Homo sapiens: one gene and its partner. The protein of the gene in region 1 purifies or fractionates together with the protein of each later gene. This does not show direct contact. Each region holds a gene or a part of one and is shown on either strand. Other genes may lie near its edges. The genes, in order: BRINP1 and IQSEC1.

What was found.
Region 2: the proteins of BRINP1 (region 1) and IQSEC1 purify together in Homo sapiens (affinity purification with mass spectrometry; one large-scale study listed by BioGRID and IntAct). This does not show direct contact.

The regions. Positions count from the first base shown.
Region 1 is NC_000009.12:119,167,962-119,170,437, reverse strand, and holds part of BRINP1 (BMP/retinoic acid-inducible neural-specific protein 1 precursor), read left to right. Parts: intron 1-2,213; coding exon 2,214-2,476. UniProt on the Homo sapiens protein: Plays a role in neurogenesis and brain development. May suppress cell cycle progression in postmitotic neurons by inhibiting G1/S transition.
Region 2 is NC_000003.12:13,063,333-13,067,155, forward strand, and holds part of IQSEC1 (IQ motif and SEC7 domain-containing protein 1), read right to left. Parts: intron 1-3,823. UniProt on the Homo sapiens protein: Guanine nucleotide exchange factor for ARF1 and ARF6. Guanine nucleotide exchange factor activity is enhanced by lipid binding. Accelerates GTP binding by ARFs of all three classes.

The DNA of each region.
Region 1 (2,476 bases):
TCTTTTTTCTCTAAACTTCCCTTCTCACTTCATTTCATTCATTTCATCTTCCATTGCTGATACCCTTTCTTCCAGTTGATCGCATCGGCTCCTGAGGCTTCTGCATTCTACACGTAGTTCTCGAGCCTTGGTTTTCAGCTCCATCAGCTCCTTTAAGCACTTCTCTGTATTGGTTATTCTAGTTATGCATTCTTCTAAATTTTTTTTAAAGTTTTCAACTTCTTTGCCTTTGGTTTGAATGTCCTCCTGTAGCTCAGAGTAATTTGATCGTCTGAAGCCTTCTTCTCTCAGCTCGTCAAAGTCATTCTCCATCCAGCTTTGTTCCGTTGCTGGTGAGGAACTGCGTTCCTTTGGAGGAGGAGAGGCGCTCTGCTTTTTAGAGTTTCCGGTTTTTCTGTTCTGTTTTTTCCCCATCTTTGTGGTTTTATCTACTTTTGGTCTTTGATGATGGTGATGTACAGGTGGGTTTTTGGTGTGGATGTCCTTTCTGTTTGTTAGTTTTCCTTCTAACAGATAGGACCCTCAGCTGCAAGTCTGTTGGAATACCCTGCCTGTGACGTGTCAGTGTGCCCCTGCTGGCGGGGTGCCTCCCAGTTAGGCTGCTCAGGGGTCAGGGGTCAGGGACCCACTTGAGGAGGCAGTCTGCCCGTTCTCAGATCTCCAGCTGCATGCTGGGAGAACCACTGCTCTCTTCAAAGCTGTCAGACAGGAACATTTAAGTCTGCAGAGGTTACTGCTGTCTTTTTGTTTGTCTGTGCCCTGCCCCCAGAGGTGGAGCCTACAGAGGCAGGCAGGCCTCCTTGAGCTGTGGTGGGCTCCACCCAGTTCGAGCTTCCCGGCTGCTTTGTTTACCTAATCAAGCCTGGGCAATGGCGGGCGCCCCTCCCCCAGCCCGCTGCCGCCTTGCAGTTTGATCTCAGACTGCTGCGCTAGCAATCAGCGAGACTCTGTGGGCGTAGGACCCTCCGAGCCAGGTGCGGTAATATAATCTCGCGGTGCGCCGTTTTTTAAGCCCGCCGGAAAAGCACAGTATTCGGTGGGGGAGTGACCCGATTTTCCAGGTGCCGTCAGTCACCCCTTTCTTTGTTTCGGAAAGGGAACTCCCTGACCCCTTGCACTTCCCAAGTGAGGCAATGCCTCGCCCTGCTTCAGCTCGCGCACGGTGCGTGCACCCAATGACCTGCGCCCACTGTCTGGCACTCCCTAGTGAGATGCACCCGGTACCTCAGATGGAAATGCAGAAATCACTGTCTTCTGCGTCGCTCACGCTGGGAGCTGTAGACTGGAGCTGTTCCTATTAGGCCATCTTGGCTCCTCCGCCACATTTTCTTTATCCAGTCTATCATTGATGGGCATTTTGGTTGGTTCCAAGTCTTTGCTATTGTGGACAGGGCTGCAATAAACATCGTGTACATGTCTTTATAGTAGAATGATTTATAATCCTTTGGGTATATACCCAATAATGGGATTGCTGGGTCAAATGGTATTTCTCATTGTAGCTCCTTGAGGAATCGCCACACTGTCTTCCACAATGGTTGAACTGACTTATACTCACATCAACAGTGTAAAAGTGTTCCTGTTTCTCCACACCTTCTCCATCATCTGTTGGGAAATAACCCCTTTCTAACATGTTCTAAAAAACCACCATGAGGATCATGTAAGATCATCAATAGAAATCACTACATGATTTCTAGCGTATGATAAAATATAATTTGTTTTTGTTGAAGTTGGTAGATGTTATACACCCTCATGGGAGGAATCTGTAATGGGGGTTGAAACATGTGGTTTAAGTAAACAAATAACCCCTAAGGTCTTTTTCATTGCTGATTGTTTACAATATGTTGTCATCCAGAAGGGGTATTTGAGTCTAGACACTTTCATTTCCTGAATCACACTTTTCTGGGACTAGTGTATAATGGAATCAAAGAGCTGGAAGGACCCCAAGGAACATTTACTCCAACCCCTTCACTTTGCAGATGAGGACATTGAACATTAGGAAGGTAAAGTACGATGTCATGCAGCTGGTTTGTGGCATTAGGAGGAGCTACAATGTAGTTCTTACGTTTATATTCGATGCCCTTCCTGTATTGTCACTGCTCCATCCAGTCCTTTCATCTTTTTGGCAGCTCCAGTTCGCATTATCAGTTGGATAACTGTAACTCACAGACCCACTCATGGTAGCTAACCTTCTCCAATTTTCCTTTATCTCCCAGGACAATTCAGCAGTGGCTTGCAAGGGTCCAGTCACTCCTCTACTGTAATGAGAATGGGTTTTGGGGAACCTTCCTGGAGAGCCAGCGGAGCTGCGTGTGCCACGGCAGCACCACGCTGTGCCAGCGCCCCATCCCCTGCGTGATAGGCGGGAACAACAGCTGCGCCATGTGCAGCCTGGCCAACATCTCCCTCTGCGGCTCCTGCAACAAGGGCTACAAGCTGTATCGAGGCCGCTGTGAACCACAGAACGTGGACTCGGAGC
Region 2 (3,823 bases), on another chromosome or scaffold:
CCTTAACCTTTTAGCTTTAGTTGACTGGTCCATTTTTGTCTTCAAAATGGCATTTGATGGAATGTTATTTGTCTCTGTCCCAGCTGCCCACTGTGGTGGCAGGAGGCACAGACAAGCATGGTGACTGTGTCATCAGGAATGCTGCGGGCACAGGGCAGAGGAGGGCAGGAGTGGCCGTCAGCAGGGCTGTTCTGCAAGCCCAGGGGAGCAGGAAGGCCCACCTGAGAAGAGGCCTGGGCTGGGGCTGGGGCCCCGGTTCTGGGAGGCATTGGGGGACAATGGATAAGACCTCTGCTCCATCAGCCAGCTGAAACCACTGCCTGCTGGCAGAGCAGGGTCTGAAACTCAGAACCCCTGGGGGCCAGCCAGGCCCCAGCTGGCAGCAAAAGGGACTTGTGTTTCCTTTCTGGGGTGAGGGGCCGGCCCCAGTGCCCCTGGTGGGATGCAGCCTTGGAGAGAAGGGCCCAAGGTGTCTCAGGTGTCAGGGAGTGGAGGGCAGTAGAGGTTGGTGACCATGGTGCACCACCAAGGAACTGAGACTGGGAGGTCACTGGCTGTCTGCTGTCCTCAATTACCAGGGATCTCAGCCTGTCAGACCTGATACCCACCCTCACCTTTTAAAAATTAAACTTTTTATTTTGAGATAATCGTAGATTCATTTGCAGTTGTAAAAAAAAAAAAAACAAAAAACAATACAGAGAGATCTTATATACATCGTTTCCCCCAATGGTAACATCTTACAAAACTATAGGATCCATCACTACCAGGATTCTGACACTGCACTGTCCTCCCATCTTAGGTAGCTTTCCGATTTTGCTTGTACCGTGGAGCCTGCATACATGATACGCCTGCATAGAACTAAACACACGCATGCACACACATACAGGCACATACAAGTGCCACCACAGTCAAAATACACAATAGCTCCATTACCACAAAGATCCCTTGTCCAGCACCCCGCTCCTTAAATCCAGAGCTTTGCACTATCCTCTTCTCTCTTCTCAAATGAAGCTGATGACTCATGTGATCCATCCACACACATATTTAAAACAGAACCAAGAGAATGGCTGAATGGTAAAATTACAGAGAAAAAAAAAGAGGAAAATAATTTAGAATAAAATAAACGGTAATTTGTCATGTTAATCGTGGGTGGGCCTACCCTATAGTCACCTGCCTGGTCGTGTGACAGCGACCACAAACCCAGATGGATGCTGGAGTTCACTGGGCACTCTGGCACCATGAGAGATGCTGTCCTTGGTGATGTGGTGCTCTGAATGGTGGCAGCTCTTGGCTGAGCTCCGAACATATCAGAGTCTGATCTTCCCTCGACTGCGAGAGCAGTTGCATTCCTGGAAAACTCAATGCATATTCAAATCATACAAAATGCATTTTGTGGTTTAGATGTCAAGAGGAGTGAGGACCAGACTCGGATAGTTGCTCGCAGATTTTCATGCCCATAAATATCTGTGTGGATTCTTGGTGTGGGGGCCTGTCCTGCACAACCTAGGCTGGCCCTGCTCCCACATGCCCTCTGGCAGCTCTGCCTGAATCTGGGGCCCACTGTCAAAGAGATGCTGATAACTGTGCCCAGGACTGACCTGGACGGAGAGCCAGCTAAGGTGACAATGATGAAGGCTTGACGCATAGGCTTCCTGGAGATGTGTGGGGGTGTTCATCTTGGAATGTTCAGGCCCAGTCCCACCAGCCTCCCTTCTCCTGCCTGGGGAAGACACACAGGGCTTGGCTTCCTTCATGGAGGCCCCACTGCAAGCAGCTGGCCAGGGCTTCCCATGGAAGGAGACCACCACCTCCTGCAGGGGCCGGCTGGTCACACATCCCCCAAGTTGAGCGTTTCATTGGCTCAAATCCAGAAACCACAAAACAGTGGTGGGAAAACTAAACTGCTCTGTGTCACCAGCTTGCTGAGGGAGCACTTCAATGATGAAGCACACATATAAATGCACAGAAATTCACCAAGGACCCAAAGGAACTGGACACAGCCGTGGCCTCTGGGCAGAAGAACAAGAAGCAAGGGAACCAAATAGACAATATGTGCAGCCTTTTTTTGTACCATGTGGATGAATAATCTCTCAGTTATATGACTATATTTGAAAAACAACAAAGACGTAACCATCCCTTTTGTAAGCTAAACTTCATCACTCACACTTTTATTCAAGAGGGGGAAATTTAAAAACACAAGATACCACTTCACACCATTAGGATGGCTATTATTAAAGAAAAACAGAAAGTAATGAGTGATGGCGAAGATGTGGAGAAACCAGGACCTTTGTGCAGTGGTGGAGGGAAGGTAAAGCAGTGCAGCTGCTGTGGAAAACAGTATGGCGGCTCTTCAAAACAGTCAGCATCCAATCACAATCTGACCCAGCAATCCCACTTCTGAGTATACACCCAACAGAAATGGAACCAGGGACTCGGAGAGGTATTTGCACACCCATGTTCACAGCAGCACTATTCACAACAGCCAAAAGGCAGAAACAACCCAGTGTCCATCAATGGGTGAATGGACAAACAAAATGTGGTCCATCCGCACAATGGAACAGTGTTCAGCTTTAAAAAGGAAGTTCTGCCCATTGCCGCAGCAGGGATGAACCTTGAGGACATGAGGCTAAGTGAAGTAAGCCAGTCAGGAAAGGACAAATGCTGTCTGATTCCACTCACATGACATCCCCAGGGCAGTCATATTCACAGGGACAGAGAGCAGAATGGTGGGTGCCAGGGGCTGGGGATGCAAGATGGGAGTCTGCGCTTACAGAGCACAGAGCCCTGTTTGGGAAAGTGAAGTTCTGGAGATGGATGCTGTGTTGGCTGCACGGCACTGTGAATGCACTTACTGCCGCTGAAATGTGTGTAATTAAAAAAGGCAAACATGTGGTCGATCTGCACAACGCAACAGTGTTCAGCTTTAAAAAAGGAAGTTTTCTGTCTATCTTACCACAATTTTAAAAATGGTGATTTGTACCTTGTCAGGCCAGGCCCCTCAGGGATGCTAGAAAGCAAAGGCAGGACTTCCGGGCAGCTGGTGACAACAGAGGGGCCGGCACTGTGTCTGTCACAGCGAGGACTCGCCACGCGCCATGCGGGAGCTCTATGAGGGGGCCCATTTGCCTGGGGGAGTCAGGAAAGAGGCACAGGCTGGGCTGTGAGGTCTGAGGTGAAGGGGAAGAAGGGCACTCCCGGCAGAGGAGCCAGCATGGGCAAGAGTGTGGCAGGGTGAGCCTTCCAGGCAGGGCTGGGCAGGAGTTGGAACGTTGTGGGATCGTGGGAGGCCAGGAGGACCAGGAGAGAGGGCCTCAGGCCCCAGAGCGGCTGAGGAGAGAGGGGTGTGTGCAGGAAGGGGCGCCCACTGCCCCACCCCGTTCTCTTCCCAGCTGTATCCAGGAGCCGCTCTGGCAGGTGCCACCAGGTCTTATTTACTGTGTCCCTTCTCTGGGCGGTAGCTCCATGCAGGCAGGGCGGGCCTGGTCCATTTACAGGCGTAGCCCACAGGCCTGGCGTGTGTCAGGACGTGGACTAGATGTCCAGTGACCATGGTGGGCTGAGTGAATGAATGGGTGAGTGATCGGCAGGATGGGGCCATGTGAATGAGCCAGCATGCCTGGAGCTGCTGTGCCTGGCAGACACCACTCCTCCCACTCCCAGTCCCCTGTGTGTCGCAGCATAACCAGGAACTTTCCAGATGAGGTCAGAGGCCCAGAGAGGGCAAGCAGCCTGCCCAGGGTCACATAGTGAGGCAGGGACAGAGCTGGAGTGGAGCCTCCTTGTCCTGCTCTGTAAGGCCCCAGGTGGGCCAGGGCCTCAGAGA